Linked DNA regions of Homo sapiens. The protein of the gene in region 1 purifies or fractionates together with the protein of each later gene. This does not show direct contact. Each region holds a gene or a part of one and is shown in the gene's direction. Other genes may lie near its edges. The genes, in order: CEP162 and KCTD8.

Region 1 (8,869 bases):
AACTAATAAAGGACCATCGGTTAGAAAATGACTCTATATGGCCTATTTATGCTTAAGACTACAGATTGTGACTGGAAAAATACTTGTTTCTGGCTAAAAGATATTATAATCATTTTCTTCATTAGGTTTCTTAATACAACAAAATAGTGATATTTGTAATCCAAAACATTTAGCTTAAGAAATAATAAGCACAACTTCAAATTTCTACCTTATCGACATATTTTAATAAAGTAATTCTGTGTTCTAAGAGTTCCATTCAGTAAATCAGTAATGTTCCATATAGCCCTGTCAGTAAAACTATTTGGAGGCAAACACACTCACTTTATGAATATTTATTTATAAATTAATATATTTATAGCAATTAGTCCGCAATATTAGTCAAACTTTAATTTATTAAGTTTGAGATAAAAATAAATTGAAAATAAATTCTAATATTTTCTTCTTATATCCAATCACCTCCCCATCATCTAAGGTATGTGAATACAAAAAAACTTAATTTTAGACTAACATTATCACATAGACCCAGTCTAATAATTTGTCAATAATCAGATGAGCTTAATCCATATTTTAGATGTGCTAAAAATCACAATTTTGTATATATGCGTAAAACACATATTTATACTTATTTCTCTAACTTGCTGGGGAATTCATGTATGTATTACATTGATTATATATTAATAGATGTAGAAATTTTGTGATTATCTGGGTTACGGAATTATAATCTAAAATATCAGTTTTAGACAGCACTCTGGAGCTCAAGGGAGGTCCCTTCAAGACCAATAAAAAAGCATAGAAAGAGAGCTCAAAACCATCCTTCACCTGCCTCCCAACCATTGCAACTCTGCTTTGTTTTATACATTGTGCTTCTCACAAGATTTTCCTAGAAGAAAGGATTCTGAAACATATATATATAACCTATGATCTTATTCTATCTAGTAACGGATTGACAGAAAGTTGGGGAAAATGGGACAGGCGTCATTTAGATTTCACCAATTTTATATGCACTCACTTGTATATGTGTGGTGTGTGTGTGCATTTGTATGCAATCTTATCAACATGTAGCTTGTTATAACTGCTACTGTATCAGGATACAGAACAATTCCATCACTACAAAGATTTCCTATGCTACCTCTTCATATCTACACTCACCCAGTTGATAGTTCATTGTGGTTCTAATTTGCATTTCCCTAATGATGTGGAATATCTTGGTGATGCTGAGCATCTTTTCATGTGCTTATTCACCATTTTCATATACCTTTCTCATGTCCCCTTTGGTGAAATGTCCACTCGTGTCTTTTGTCCATTTTCTAATTGTGTATTTTGCTTTTGCTATTTTGCTAGTGTTCTTTATATGTTCTAGATAGCAGCCCTTTGTCAGATATGTGGTTTGCAAATATTTCATCCTAGTCTTTAGTTTGTCTTTTCCTCCTCACAGGGTCTTCATAGGCTGAGTTTTTCCTTGATTCGTCAATTTTTGTGTTTTTACATTTCCATAATAATTATAAAACCATGTTGATAACTGTATTATTTAGAAGCATAGCCAAATTGCTGACATCCTCAGTGGCCATTTACTGGATTATTAAAGAATTATTTTAAAAACAATTTCATGACCTAAATCACCATCCATGAGTTCATGATATAATTGTAAATGGGCAGCTCTGCATACCCTAGGGAAAGAGCATCTGCCTGTATTTTAGAAACATTTAAATACTTGTAAATATGACTGTACAATTTCTCAATATTCTACTATGAATTATTATTCTTTTTCTTGGGAACAACTTATAACAATAGCTTAAACTTTGACTACTACATTTCATATACAAAACAATTAAGAAAAATTTTAAGTAGTCAAAAGCAGTCAGATGTGGACAAATGAGCAGAAGTCAACAATGACTTTGACAAACAAAATAACGATGGCAATAACAAAAAAACCATTAATTTTCTTATGACTAGAATGATACGATTCCTTCAGTGTCTTCCTCATTATCCACATAAGTGAAGAGAATACCCACTTCTGAAAATTAGAGGTAAAGAAGCAAGCAACTGGAACTATTATGTAACTGTATCTGATTCAGTTCTTCTCCTTAATCCACTCCCACAATGTGCTAAGTTTACACCCCATTACCGTTGCAGGTCTTGGCTACAACTATACTGTCAGTGTTGACCGAGTTCTCACACTGTACTGTTTGCTACGAGAAAAGGCAATATAAGGCTTGAGGTACAGTCTCCCCCTCTAGAACCTCACTAGAGAGCTGGATAAACACCAAATATAAATCAAATTTCATATCATTCTAGGAAACACAAAAAGAAACACATAATGATTGAGAAACCTGTAACAATTATGGAGAATCTAAAAGTAGGAAACTTTGATGCTACCCAGAGTGATTTAACTACTAAAGTAGCCATTTCATTGACATTTTAGATATATATTTATGATGAGAGCTAGTATTAAATGGTGTTTTAAATTATGGGTCATGAGGTCAATTCATTTTATAAAAATGAATACAATAGTATACAGCACAGTGTAAACTCTCAAAAAATATTAATCATTCTTTTAATGACTATTATTTTGAAAAATGTATAACAATTCAATTCAGTACCAAAAATTTAGTGACATCCCTTCCACAATTCAGCATAACAAACTCTTGGATCCTATAAGCATAAGTTTTGTAGGTTTACGCATAGAGACAAAATGATTATTCACTCTTTAGACACAGTAACATTCATCTTCCACTCCTTATACCAAAGCTCCAATTCTAACCTCAATAGGACTGAACTCTGTACCAGAGCTGCAAATAATTCTGCATGCCTTGGTGAGTGGGGGTGAGAGGAGGCTGTAGAAGAGAATAGTGCCGACCATACCATGCAAGTCCTTGTAGATATTTGGATTTTAGTACAAATACAGAGAGAAATCATTGTAGGATTTTCAGCAATGGAGTAACCTGATTTACATTTTCAAATTATCACATTTTCTATTGTGTAGACAATGGGTTAGACGAGGATAGGAGTAGAAATAGAGAAACTTGTTAGAAGGCTAATGAAGCAGCTCAGACAAGAGGAAAAGATGCCTCTATCATTAGTAATTAAGATGTAAAATGAACAGAATAGAGACACATTTTGGAGGTAGCACCAACAAGTCTTGACGAATAAAATATGGGAGAGAGGGAACTCCCAGATTTCTGTCTTGAATGAGTAGGTGTATGGAAGTACCATGAAGTGTGACAGAATAAGAGTCCAGAAATAAGCCCTAAGAAATTCTAACATTGGCCAGGCGCGGTGGCTCACACCTGTAATCCCAACACTTTGGGAGGCCAAGGTGGGCAGATCAGGAGTTCAAGACTAGCCTGACTAACATGGTGAAACTCTGTCTCTACTAAAAACACAAAATTAGCCAGGTGTGGTGGTGGGCACCTGTAATCCCAGTTACTCGGGAGGCTGAGGCAGGAGAATCAGTTGAACCCAGGAGGTGGAGGTTGCAGTGAGCCGAGATCGCACTATTGTACTCCAGCCTGGGTGACAGAGCAAGACTCCGTCTCAAAAAAATAGAAATTAAAAAAAAAGAAAGAAAGAAAAGAAAAAAAGAAAAAGAAGAAAAGAAAAGAAATTCTAACATTTAGAGGTCAGCTAGGATAGACAGAGACAGTGAAAACCCTTGAGGGGAGGCTATAAATGTGAAAGAAAAACCAAGAAAGAGAGGAGACAAGTGTATCAAATAGTATTGGGAGATCAAATAAAGCGCTGTCATATATGTACACTTACACACACAGAGACAGGATTAAAAGGTCTGACAAAAGGGAGGTAAAGTGGAAATAATTCCTCAGAAAAGATTGGCAAGTAAGGTGAGGAGACAGATCATTTCAACCACTGGGAAATAATAGCATGAAGAGAATGTGTCAGAAGTGATGTTTTAGGTGGGGATCTCAAGGCATGTTCAAATGCTGTTAGGAAAAATCCCACAGCCAGCCAGAAGTCGAAGATACAGGATTAAGGGAAATGACCAGTGGAACAAGATCAGTGAGAAGAAGAATGGGTAAAGGCTCTAGATCATATGTGGGAAGGTAAGTCTTTGATAGAAGGTGGCAGGAAGTCAACTTCTCAATAAATGGTAGCTTAAGATATTTCTTTTATTATTCATATTTGCATCATAGTCCACAGCTCCTGGTTTGTACATATTTGTATTGCAAGAAAGACTTGATGAATAAACAGTTCTAGCTAAAGATGAGGTCCTGAACTAAGTCTACCATCAGCAAAACCTGCAGCTGTTGTAGATTTTACTTACACTATGCTAAATGTTGTCCTCTGAAACTCCAGCTAATGTTGCATGCTTTGAAAAAAAGAAAAGAAATAGAAAACAAAATCCAAGTCAGTAATTGTGAAATGCCAGTAAAGAATGCAGTTTTGAAAAGTAGGGGTAGCGGGAGGAGCAATAACTTAATAAGAATCTTGCTGTTTGCGTATTTTCGATTTCTTGCCCACTAGGTGGTGGAACAGAGTCCCCATCTAAACGACAGTTTTTTTCCTCACAGGTTTGTGTTTCTCTCACAATGCCTACACAGGTCTTTGCAGGCCAAAGAAATCCAAGAAATTCAATCTCTTCAAAATTGCCCCTTGGAAAAACAGAGCGCTCGAATGACAAGTGTGGGGAAGGCGGGAGGCGACGATGCGGAGTGCGGAAACACAAGGACCAGGGGAGCTAAACTACATTTCCCAGAAAGCCACGGGCTGGCCTACAACCACCGCGCCCTCCAAGCCTGCTGGAAGCCTCCGTCTCGCTTCTCCAGTAACCGGTTTGCCGCTGTCCCCTTTTCTAAGGAACGTAGAGAAAGCCAGGGAAGGAAAGGCATTTTACTGCAGCAGCGAAGGTTTAGCCACTAGAGTGTCTTTCTCAGCCGTGGTTATTCCGACCTTCGCTTGTAAAGGCATTGGGAAACCCACGGCCCACGTGACCAGCCCGGGTCATGTGACTCCAGAACCCGGCAGCTGAAGTCTGTTACCCTGACAACTGGTGGACCCGCACAGACCTTCCGGGAAAGCGCGGAATTCAGAGGCAGAGGTAGGTGGTAAGGTGTGAACGCTGGTTTCCCACCCAAATCGCCCTGGTCGAGGCCGTGCTTCATACTCGAGCGAAGGGCTTTAATTTTCCAGGTCATTCCCCTTCTCCGCCCGGAGCCCACGGCAAATGCGTCTTTGTCTTCCCTCCAATTCCCGAACCCGCGCTTCTGGGGACGGGGTCGCAGCCAGGCTTGAGAAGCTTTTAGTGGAGCTCACCCCTGACCAAGCTATTCAGGCCAAGACCTTAACCGCACTTACCCTGAACTGATCGAAAGTGCAAATGAGGGGAAGAGGTGTTACTCTGCACGATGGGGAGGGTATTGTCCGGGTCTGCAAGCCCTCTTCCCCTCCCCCATCTCTACAGAAGAAAGCTGGGATTTGAGCTGCTCTAGGGAGTTCAGGAGCTGGGGGTCGACCCAAGGTTGGGTTCATTAGGTGTCTAGGGGAACGCTTTCCGTTGCAAATCACTGGATTCTGCTTGTGTTCAGCACATAATTTTTGTCGGTCTTCCCTCGCTTCAAAAGAAACATAGTACTGATTTGTGTACTCCATTAACTTTAAGTATTCTTTAAGTATTTTGACTAAATTACTAATTCTTACTAAATTCTATTTGTGTATATTTTGAAACATCCCCGTATCTGGATACAGTCTGCTTTACGAAACTATGCAGTCTGCTTTACGAAACTATTACTATGGATTGGTAAAATAACGAGCCGAGTGATAAGGCAGCACAAACTGTCGTGTGCTTTGCAAGAAAGAAACAGTCCTTTGGATTTGCTAACTTACAGTTTTTAAGATTCCCTGTGAGGACCTGGTTTGTGTTTGAGAGGTACTAATTAACACATGCACACAAACATAGGTTTGGGAAATATTGTAGAGACCACTCTTTAACAATTGGATGTTAACAGATGAAAACATAATTCTGAACGTTGAGTACAAGACATCCTGTCAAAGCTGCTTTTCCAAATCAGTTTGCTTAATGAATTAGGAATCTCTTGACCAGCTCTTACTGGTTAAAAAAAATTGTGCATATATACTGAATCATAACAAATGTCCGAAGTTTAAGTCTGGTCGTGTTCATGATCTGATGGATTTCCTCAAAAGATGTTTATGTCTCTTGTCATTTAGTGTTTCCAATGTTTGAGGTACTTTAGAATGTTTACTTTGGGAGGTCAAAATTGTTGACTATGGCTAACTGTTCCCAAGAAGAGCTAGATGAAGAGTTTGAACAGTTTATGAAAGAGGTAAGTTTATATTTTTAAAAGCTATATTGTCAAATTTGTCTCAAAAGACTCATCCTTCAATTCTGTCATCTCGAAGATACAGTTAGTCCATCACCAAACTCTGAATTCCCATCATCCCTCTAGCCCTGTCCCTTTTCTGCCACTGCTAGTTCAGTGCCATCATCTCAACTGGGCTATGGCAGCAGTTCTCAACTCATGGTCCAGCATTCCTTTCACCACACTGCAGTCAGACTCTGTTCCTCCCCAGTAAAAGACTCTATTGGTCTCCCATCACATGTAGAAAAAAAAAAACAAACAACTCCTCCTTACCATGGTTTTAAAGCCTTTCATGATTTCACTCTTACATATCTCACTGCCTTCATATCCCTCTTTCACCCACTTTATTTATTCCACAGTGGCCTTTTTTCTTTCCCAGACATTGCAAGCTCATTTCACCTTAGGAGCTTTGCACTCACTGTTCCCTCTGCCAATAATGCTCCTCCCTTACTCTTTACCTGGCTGGTGAAAATCTTAACTTAAATATCACCACTTCAGAGAGGCTTCTTCTGTTTATCCAGTAAAAGGTAAACACAAAGTCACTTCTTAATCTGGTATGTATTTAATTCTTTTTATAGCACTTAGCACATTAATTATTTTTCTTGTATGGGTCTGTTTTCTGCTTCCCATTATAAGAATGTATGGTCTGTAATGTGATGACTCTACGTTCATTGCTATTATATATCAACATGTTCACTACTATGTCTACAGTACCTAATAAATACTTAATAAATATTTGAATGAGTATATTAAATGGTTATACCACGTTCTGTGTACAGTCATGCACCTCATAAAGATGGTTTGGTCAGCAACAGACCACATATACAACAATGGTTCCGTAAGATTATAATGGGGCTGCCCTATAAAGGTGTATCTTTTTAATCTTTTGTACCATATGTTTACTTTTCTATGTTTAGATACAGAAATGCTTGCCATTGTGTTACAGTTGCCTGCAGGATTCAGTACAGTACATGCTGAACAGCTTTGTAACCTAGGAGCAATAAGCTATACCATATAGCCTAGGTGTGGAGTAGGCTATACCATGGAGCCATCTAGGTTTGTGTAAATATACTCTATGATGCTCCTATGATGAAATCCCATTTCTCAGAACATATCCCCATAATTAAGCGATGCATAAAACTCTATTTATATAAATGGAGGGGCCTTGTAGAGCATTCAAGAGAGTCACATTTTAAGCTATTATACGTTATACATTCTTGTTAAAAAAGGGAGTTTAATGTAGTACAAAAAAACTTCATTATCCGTCTCATGGAAAAATAATGCCTTCTTTGTAGAATTGTTTTAAGGATTTAAAAAAGCATCTACCAATTGTCAAGATGTAATAGGCACTTGGAATAAGTTTCATTTACCATTTGAAAAGTTGATTTTTTAAAATTTCAAATACAGACACATTTTGAAAATTAAATTTATAGGAATGATTTTTATTGTAAAAGATAGCAGAACAGGCCTTTTAGAAGATGTTTTTATTCTTCCCTCATTTACCACCCTTCCAGCACACACATTCTCCAACACTCTCCTTCCCCCACCCTTCTGTCTGTGTCTCTCTTCCTCTTATATCCATCCTCAGTTGCAATGTGTCATTTTTTTTTTACTGTGAAAGTCATGATTTTAGAGTCATGCTAACTTTTCTCACTTTGATAAATTATTGTTCAAACAATTTATTCAAAGACATAGTTTATATATCTTTATTTTTTAGGACAGTAGTGGTAACCAGCTTTTTAAAAATAGCTTTATTGAGACATAATTCACATACCATTTAATTCACCCATTTTAAATGTGCAGTTCTGTGGTTTCAGAGTTATGTAACCATCACCACAATCAATTATAGGAATTTTTATCACCCCAGAAAGAAATCCCATATCTGTTAGCAGTTACTCCATCTCCTTGTTCCCCCTTCCCTAGCCTTAGGCAACTACTAAGCTGACTTCTGTCTCTAAATGTTTGCCTGTTACAGACATTTCATAGAAATTGTATTATATATTATGGGGCCCTTTGGGTCTGGTTTCTTGTACTTAGCATGATGTTTTCAAGGTTCATCCATGTCGTAGTATGTATTAACACTTCATTTCTTTTTATGGATAAGTAATATTTCATTGTGTAGATGTACCACATTTTGTTTTTCCACCTGTCAGTTGACGGACATCTGGGTTCTTTCCACTTTTTGGCAGTTACAAACAATGCTGCCATGAACAATCATGTACAAGTTTTTGTGTGGATGTGTTTTTGTTCCTCTTGTGTATATGCCAAAGAGTGAAATTGCTGTATCATATGGTAGCTGTGTGTTTGCCTATTTTCTAAAATGACTGTGTTATTTTACATTTCCACTAGTAGTGTATTAGTTTATCAGAGTTCCAATTTCTTTTTTTTTTTTCTTGAGACTGAGTCTTGCTCTGTTGCCCAGGCTGGAGTGCTGTGGTGCAATCTTGGCTGACTGCAACTCTGCCTTCTGGGCTTAAGCAATTCCTATGCCTCAGCCTCCTAAATTGCTGAGATTACAGGCGCCTGCCACCACGCCC
Region 2 (9,028 bases), on another chromosome or scaffold:
TTTATAGAGTTTAACCACGTGTTACCCTAAACTTCAGTAGTATTTCTATACAATTTTAAATATAGAATCAGAACTCATATTGAATTATATTAAGATATTGAAGTTGCTGGAATATGTTATTTAATGTGTTCATTAGCATAGATACTCTGAGTTTCCTAAATATCTGATTTGCAAAAGTTTTTCATTTTATAGAACCATTGACACTCTTACAATTAACATATGAGGTTTGGGGGCAATGCATACTCTACTTTCCAACTTTCCCTAGATTCAGCAGCAATTGCTGAATTTGCAGAAGATCTTTCCCATCTTATCTTCAGTCTTATTCCTACAAAGGCTAACTCTGCTTTGTTTGCTCTGATAGGAAGCTCTTTATTTCTAACTTTGCTAAAAGCCATATACCCACAAAATAAACCCTGGCCTGGCCTGCTGTTCACAAGAGTGATACATGCATTATGGGGGTGTGCCTGTTGTGTAAGGAATATCTAAGTTCTTTCGTGATTACTTTCTATTTTCTCCTCCCTCTCTCTCTCTCACTCTCTCTTTTTTTCTGTTTGTTATTTTTGCTTGTTTTTTTTTTGGCCAGAGAGATGTTTTATGGTTCCCATTTCACGTGTTAAATGACTCTACGCAAGTACTGAATTCCAGCCTCCTCTCATTACAATCTTGTAATTAAAAACTTTTAAAAGTTATACTTTCTTACCTAATCCTCAAAACACAGACAAGCTTTAAAGTCACAAATGCTCTAGAGCTATGCTGTTCAGTTTAGAAGCCACTGGGCACATGCGACTATTGAGCATATGAGATATGGCTAGTCCAAGTTATAACTGTTTAGATGTGTCAGAAGAGCTAAATACATACCATATTTTCAAGACTTTGTGTGGAACAAAATGTAAATTATGTCATTAATACATTTTGAAATGAGATTTTGGACATACTGGGCTAAATAAACAATAATATTAAAGTAATTTCATGTTTATTTTTTAATGTGGCTGTAAGAAATTAAAAATGAGATATATGGTTCCTATATTTGTATTAGACAGCACTGCTCTAAAAATTGCAAAGGCTCTGGTACTGGAAAGAATGTCAGGCTTTTTACTTAGAATTACATGAGATACTTGAGGGTTTTTTGTTTGTTTGTGTTTATTATTTATTTATTTTGGTAAAACTTTCAAATGTCCTGAACTAGATTAACAGACACCAGATGGTTTCCTGAAAATTAGAAGCACAGTTGGCCTTGGACAGAAGCAAGCTAAAAGGGGTAATTAGACCATGGTCAAAAGACTGAACAAAGTTAAAAGAAAAAAAAAAAGAACAGGGCCAAGGTAAATTAAATCAACGAAATTATATCAGTGTCTAGGATGATAACATGCAATGAAGGAGACAACAATAGATACAGACAGGGAAGGACATGATGGTATGGGGATGTTCATAATGACAGGGCTGTGTAACCCCAGGCCTTAGGGGTGAGACAACTGGAAGGAAGGTAGGTAGAGCGACTAAAATCAGTTACCTGCTTCTGGATCTTGGATCTATCTAGTCAAGATGTAACTCTGTTCCCATCCCTGAGAACCATACTGTGAAATACACATTATAAATATATTGAACTCCATCAAACTTAGGTGGATTTGTTACAAATCATCATTGATGTGATGAGCTGAGGTCTTTGTTATTTCCATGGTGCCCATGAAGAAACTGAGGTTCGGAGTAACTTGCTGAAATTGCAAAGCTAGTAAGAGACAAAGTTAGATTTTAACCTAGTTCTATTTGATTCTAAATGTCGTTATCATTTGTGTTCTTCCTCCCCTTTAGAAGAAGATACATTTTCTGCCTTTAAGTAACTCTCTACCTGGTGAAGAAATATTTGTTATTATAAATTTTAAATTATTTATGTGTTAAAATCTGGATTCAATATATCCTTTTTGGTTTGTTTGCTGTGCTTTTAGAGACACTCAGGTTTGACCGTGTTATTTTAAAATGTGCTGGGTATGGGAACTGTTCTAGTGTAATTTCTATTCAGAGAAGCTTGCTGCCTTGTCTTTGCGTAGCAACAGAAGATCTTAAAGGACCCACATATGTGATCAAATTGGTCTAAGGAACATTAATGGTGTCTGTGGCTTAGAGCAAAATGGTTCTGATTACGGTATTTGGTGTTGATTGCTCAGTTCACCAAATGGATTGCTTCAATTGTGTCTCTTTCTTGCTTTCTCTTCTCTTTTATTTCTGAGTTTATTTTGATTAGATTCTGGTTCTCACTTTACCTGATTTTAATTGTGAAGAACAGTTCTAACTCAATCCTGCAATCTCATTATTTAGCCTGGTACCCAGCACATAGGTGATGCATTGTCATCTATTTATGATATTAATACAGTTCTATTCAGTGAGCTTTCAACACATATAAATTGGCTATCTCTTTATGGGCTACCTCTATAGCCTACCTCCATGGGGATATAATAGTGCATACGGTCGCATGCCATTTTTACAACGTGGCGGGACACAGTTACACATCAGTGTGATAAACCTTGCCCATGTATAAACATGGGATCTTATGGGAACATCTTAGGAAGACGCTTCACTAGGTTGGGTAAGTGAATGTAAAGATTTCTAGAGAAAGTGATATTTAAACTAAGAGCTGGAGGAAATTGGTAAGCAGGGAGAATGGGTTAGGGATCTGGTGGAAGAGGAAGGGCATTCCTAGCAGAAGGAAGAGGAAAGATAGAAACATTGTAGATCTGCAATTTGTTCAGTCTGAGTTTGGTTGAAGGGTATAACTGGGAGACAGAGGAGAGTAATAGGAGTGTGAAGAGAGAAGAAATTAAGAAAAAATGTTTAATCAAGTTGAAGGAATCATTTTAAAAAGGAATATATCAAACAATACAATTCATTGTGAATTTTTGAGATGATTCATTTAGAGTATAAATTTTTGATCACTTTATCTTATAGACATAATTTATTTAATTCAAAAGTAAAGATGGATTTCAACCTGATATTAGCGACTTCATATTCACATGCATATTTATTATATATCCACTTCATTACAGTTCTACAGTCTGCACCTTACTTATCATTAGGGACACTTACCTTATGATAAATGGGCTTCACTAGTAGTGGTTTGAGGCATTATTATATATTCATCTATGAAGATTATAAAGCATCTATTAATTCATTTATCCAGGAACGATTACTTTAAATCCCGAATATTCTTCTAATGAGGCAGAAAATAGTGTATTTTTTCTGTTATTTTAATACTTGGTTTTAACTTTTAAATGAAGGCTAAATCAATTAAATTAGTTAATTTGATCAATCAGTTTATAAATTTGGCAGGACACAATAGTTTTGAGTAAAAGGATTGCATGATGATGCATACCGAAACCCCCGTTTTAAGTCTCAGTCCTTTGGCAAATATATTCTGTTCTTTCATTGGTCCATTAGGTTCTCTCTGCTTCATATAATGCAACTTCAAAATTGGTATAACATTGTCTATGGATGCAGCTTATAAGGATCAATGATTTAAACATAATTTGTAATGTTCCAAAAATAATGTATTAATTTACAACCGTATCTGAAATTTGATACTTTTTTGGGTGGTTTGAAGAAAAGGAGTTGTTAGTAGGCATTTAACTTTTTAAAAAATATTAAAATCTGTATATCGACTGCTAATGGATAAAGTTCATCTGTAATATTGTTATGATAATTGAAGCAAACTACTTTGTGCCACAATACACCCTTTTCTCTTTTGTACTTCATAAATCAATGATTCTTTATGTTTCTGAACACAGATGTATGCCCCAGGGTAGAAGAAATATTTCTCATTTGCTTTCCTATTTTCAGTCTTTATCACAAGTAATGCTCATTTTGCAGACTGTACCTGTACTATGTACACATGGAAATTAAGGTGAGCTTAAATTCATATAATTTTTATTTGTGACCTTACTCTTGGGGTTAGAAGACTAATAAAAATATCAGCCACTTCTCTTGTTTGATGGAGCTGAAAGGGAAATGGAGAGATTAATGAGACTGATCAGGATTAGAAAGAATGAACAAATCGAGTAAATTTCCTCTCGGGCTCCGTCTCTCCCTCTATAAACATTTATTAAGCATCTAATTTAAAACTAAAAATTGTAAAAATGTCGGAAGGAAACAGTTGTTACATACACTCCTTTATTATTGTGAACTGAAAGCAGATTACAAAGTTTTAAAAATTATTCAAGGATATTCAGTGCACGCAGTCGTGAAATTTGATTCCAAGAGAGGTACGCGCATTTAGCCCTTCACTTAAACTGTATCATAAAGCCACTACAAGAGATGTACCTTCCCACCCTCACGTAATCTTTTTGCAATCACTGCTGGCAAGCCAACATTTGTGGTGATTTCAGATTAGGAGCCTGGCATCTTTGCTATAATCAAAACCTTATTCTCCCCTCTCCGCTCCTCCACTCCTTACCTTAATGAAAGTGCAAAAAACTAGTTTTACTGGGGAGGGAGGCAAGGAAGGAAGGAAGAGAAGAAGGAAAGGAGGGAGGAAAGGGGGTGGCACAGACCCAAGGAGGGAGTGAAATGAAGGAATGAGAGCGCTGTCCCTTTTTCTCGCTTTTGCTTTAGGAGCTCCCTGCCTGCCTGTCCCCGCGGGTCGGGGAGCTGCACCTCTTGCAGGCTCGGCTCTCGGCCCCGCCCCCTAGCGTCGGAGCCCGGGAGCCGCGGCTGCAGCCTATCTCTTTAAATGACAGCTGAGGCTCGGGTCCCAGTCCGGGGCTTGACGTCAGTGCCTCCTCCCGTGCTGCCAGGAGTAGTTAGCGCCACCGTCGGCGCTCCGGCCTCGCGGCACGCTTGCAAGCTGCCGGGGCGGCGAGTTTTCTTTGCTTCGGCCCCTCCTCCCGCCCTCCCCACGGAGAGCCGAGCAGCAGCCCTAGAGCCTCTCGCAAGTCTCTCTCACACTTCCCCGCCCTCGCCCCAAAGGAGCAGCAGCTCCTTCTTGCCTCTCCATTGCCGCCGCCGCACCGGCGGAGCTCCTCTCTCGCGCGTCTCTCCTCCGATGGAGCTCGGGCGCCGCCGACGCCGCCGCTGCCCCGAACCCTGAGCGGGGCCGCCCCGGTCGGAGGAACGCGCCGCCCAGTCCGAGGGCGCAGAGCGCCAGGAGCACGCGGAGGGCTGGGGCGCGGGCTCCGGGAACGAGAAAGTGCAGCTCTCTCGGGTCACTGGGCCGGCGGCGGGGGGACTATGGCTCTGAAGGACACGGGCAGCGGCGGCAGCACCATCCTGCCCATTAGCGAGATGGTTTCCTCGTCCAGCTCGCCCGGCGCGTCGGCCGCCGCCGCCCCGGGGCCCTGCGCACCCTCGCCCTTCCCTGAAGTAGTGGAGCTGAACGTAGGCGGCCAGGTTTATGTGACCAAGCACTCGACGCTGCTCAGCGTCCCGGACAGTACTTTGGCCAGCATGTTCTCGCCCTCTAGTCCCCGTGGCGGCGCCCGGCGCCGGGGCGAGCTGCCCAGGGACAGCCGGGCGCGCTTCTTCATCGACCGGGACGGCTTCCTTTTCAGGTACGTGCTGGATTATCTGCGGGACAAGCAACTCGCGCTGCCGGAGCACTTCCCCGAGAAGGAGCGGCTGCTGCGCGAGGCCGAGTATTTCCAGCTCACCGACTTGGTCAAGCTGCTGTCGCCCAAGGTCACCAAGCAGAACTCTCTCAACGACGAGGGCTGCCAGAGCGACCTGGAGGACAACGTCTCGCAGGGTAGCAGCGACGCGCTGCTGCTGCGCGGGGCGGCGGCCGCCGTGCCCTCGGGCCCGGGAGCGCACGGTGGTGGCGGCGGCGGCGGCGCGCAGGACAAGCGCTCGGGCTTCCTCACGCTGGGCTACCGGGGCTCCTACACCACCGTGCGCGACAACCAGGCCGACGCCAAATTCCGGCGTGTGGCGCGCATCATGGTGTGCGGGCGCATCGCGCTGGCCAAGGAGGTCTTCGGGGACACGCTCAACGAGAGCCGCGACCCCGACCGGCAGCCGGAGAAGTACACGTCCCGCTTCTACCTCAAGTTCACCTACTTGGAGCAGGCCTTTGATCGCCTGTCCGAGGCCGGCTTCCACATGGTGGCGTGTAACTCCTCGGGCACCGCCGCCTTCGTCAACCAGTACCGCGACGACAAGATCTGGAGCAGCTACACCGAGTACATTTTCTTCCGTAAGTTCGCAGCCCCGGCGTTTCCCAGCACCCCTCGCCCCCTGCTGAGCCGCCGCCAGTTTGAGCCCCGCTGGAGGCCCCGCGGGGGTGTCCGGGGCAGGCGCTGGTTAACTCCTTATAGAGAGCGGCTCTCCCTGCACGATTCCCTTATGCAGTAGACACGATTTACATTTCACCGATTCGGATATTTCCGTCTCTACTCCCCCTTTCTAGAACTCAGTAGCACCCAGCTCCCAGCTGTCTACTTGCTGAACTTTATTGATCTTGCCTTCTCGGCCCAGCCCGCTCCCAGATGCCAGGGTCTCCTCGGTTGCGGAGGACAGGGTGGGAGAGACTGGGGCACAGGGCAGGGTGCATAGACCCTCCTCCACCCCTTTGCTTTTGCAGGACTGCTGGGGGTCATTTCATGTGGCCCTCAGTGGTGTCCCTGCAGAGGGCAGGATGCCATAACAAGGCATCGCCTCGCACCACCTGGATCACCTGCTGTTGGTGCAGCTGCCGCGCGGGAGCCTCCAGTTACGGGTGGTTTTCTAGAGGGCAGGGGAGAAGCGATAAAGGTGCCCCCAGAGCCCCTCGAGGGGGCGGGGGCATGAGAGCGGGTGTGGGGAAAGGGGACTCCTTGACAGATGGAAACCCAGATTTCCCTGCGTCTGTTATCTCCAGTCTAATTGCCCAGTGTTTGGGACAGGGGAGGGTGGAAGGAATTAGAAAGTTTGCATGTCTGAGTGCTGCTCTTAGGGTTGGAGATTAGGAGGGGCAAGGGAGGAGGGAGGGAAGGTGTTGGGGAGGGAGGGGAAGAGAAAGAGAGAATGATTGTGTTTCCTTCTCCAGCGCGAAAGCGGGGGTTGAGTCCACTTTCTCAGGGTGAATAAATAGAGCGATTTTCTGAAATGAGAGAATGAAGGAATAGATTTGGGAAAGCATCTGGGGTGCGTTTTGCAGTGCGCTTCCGGAGCGGGCTATGTGGAGTTCAAGAACTATACCAAATACCATAATCTGAACCTGGGGATTGGGAGTGGGATTGGGAGTGGGGTGGGGCTGTGGTGGGCACAATTCTCAGTGGCGTTTATGAAGTGAAAAGACAACGACTAGAGAGCGATTTGGACAAACGAAAAGCCAGCTGGGATGGCAGCAGGAACATTATTTGGCAAAGGTTTTTCCTTTGGCCAGACACAAGTTAAAACTTGCCTGTAGCATAGGGAGAATAGCCTTGAAATCCTGTGATGGAAATAGACCAGCTTAAATTGAATTTATTTATTTTGGTAATTTAGTCACTACAGTAATTGGGAACTGAACAATTTTCTGGACTTTATTTTGACTGGAGAAATGGAAGGGAACTCTCCTTGCACAGGTGCAAGCTTAACTGGAAGGTTGGCTTAGTGTTTGTATATTCTGGTAACCTTGGAAGTTGGGTGACAAACCACAGCACACAGGTTCTCAGAGTTAGACTACTTTTTAAAGTAATGCTGGATTTCTTGAGACAACGGTTTCAACAGAGAAGCAAATGAAGTGTCTGTCCACTGAATTGGAAGCTAAAAAACTGTCTTAATTATATCAAAGTATTACTTGTTACACAATAAAAAGATTAATGGTCAGAAAAGCCACCCAAGGGAAGATATTTTATTGCTTGTATAAAATTGACATCTCTTAAATATATATTGAGTAATTAAGTATTTTAGCACCATTTTATTTCTTATCATTGTGACCTTTGTCAACAACTTTTTAGATTTTAAACCATTTAAGTCATTTCAATGTAGATTTCCAAACATTTCAGAAGATAAGGTAAAATGAACTTTTGCCTTTCTTGTAGTTAGTGTTTTTTGTTAGAGAAGATACAAGCATGAATGTTCTGCACAGTTTTCTGAAATTTTGAAAATCTTACTTGGTTTTGGTTTTTCTTATTCCTCTAGAAAGATGTGGACATGAAAATGATCATTACTTTGATTATGAAGAGATAATACAGGTTATCTCTACATTAGGAAAAAAGTGCCCTTAGTATATTGAAACTGGAAACTTAGTTAATTTAGCTAATGGGATAAATTTGAGAGATATTTGAAATTCAGGATGTTTCACTTCTAGAGCTACAGAAGTGTTAAATATTCATATTATGAATAACTACTTTCAGAGTACTCATATTATTAATGACCTCTGAAATTCATTCATAAAAAGTCCCAGAAATCTAAGGAGGCAACCTATTTTGGGAGAAAATATGCAATTCCAGATTAAATATTGTTCTTTTGAAGTGGTAAGCTAGTCGTTGATCAACCAGGTGGAGTTGTCATTTTAAATGTTGGATGTAAAATTTGTCTTGAGTACTAGAATACATATATTTATTTTATTTTTTACAGCTTTCATTATATTTTTACACATTATTTTGAATGGGATTCATTTTAATATTTGGTGAATGAAAACACACTGTAAAATGTATTTCCATCGTATTCAGTTTAGTTGATGACCAAATGTGTTTATCTTATTTGGCAAGTTTCTATTTAAAAAGATTATCGGTGTTACTCATAAGAGCAAAGTTACTGGGTGACCTTGTTTGTCCACTTATGTTTTAGATGCAGAAAATAACCTTAATAGCTTTTATTTCCCCCTTTGACACCCTTTTTTTCAGCAAATATTTATTTGTTGTGTGACATTTATTTAGTGTATAACAAGTATCAGTCACTTTAACACCTTTTAAAATCCAGGTGACATGTGAACTTAGTAGTTGAAACTGTTGTAGTTTACACACTTGAGCATCAATGTTATTCCCCCCCAACCCCCGTCACCCCCACCACACCTGAGTTTCTGCAGTAGAGGGGAAGAAAGTGGCAAATGGTTCAGTAATCCCAGATACTGTTATTTTCC

What was found.
Region 2: the proteins of CEP162 (region 1) and KCTD8 purify together in Homo sapiens (affinity purification with mass spectrometry; 2 studies listed by BioGRID and IntAct, with this or other methods). This does not show direct contact.

Annotation. Positions count from the first base shown.
Region 1 is NC_000006.12:84,223,764-84,232,632, reverse strand, and holds the start of CEP162 (centrosomal protein of 162 kDa), read left to right. Parts: upstream 1-4,989; 5' UTR 4,990-5,053; intron 5,054-6,180; 5' UTR 6,181-6,239; coding exon 6,240-6,296; intron 6,297-8,869. UniProt on the Homo sapiens protein: Required to promote assembly of the transition zone in primary cilia. Acts by specifically recognizing and binding the axonemal microtubule.
Region 2 is NC_000004.12:44,444,710-44,453,737, reverse strand, and holds the start of KCTD8 (BTB/POZ domain-containing protein KCTD8), read left to right. Parts: upstream 1-4,928; 5' UTR 4,929-5,214; coding exon 5,215-6,175; intron 6,176-9,028. UniProt on the Homo sapiens protein: Auxiliary subunit of GABA-B receptors that determine the pharmacology and kinetics of the receptor response. Increases agonist potency and markedly alter the G-protein signaling of the receptors by accelerating onset and promoting desensitization.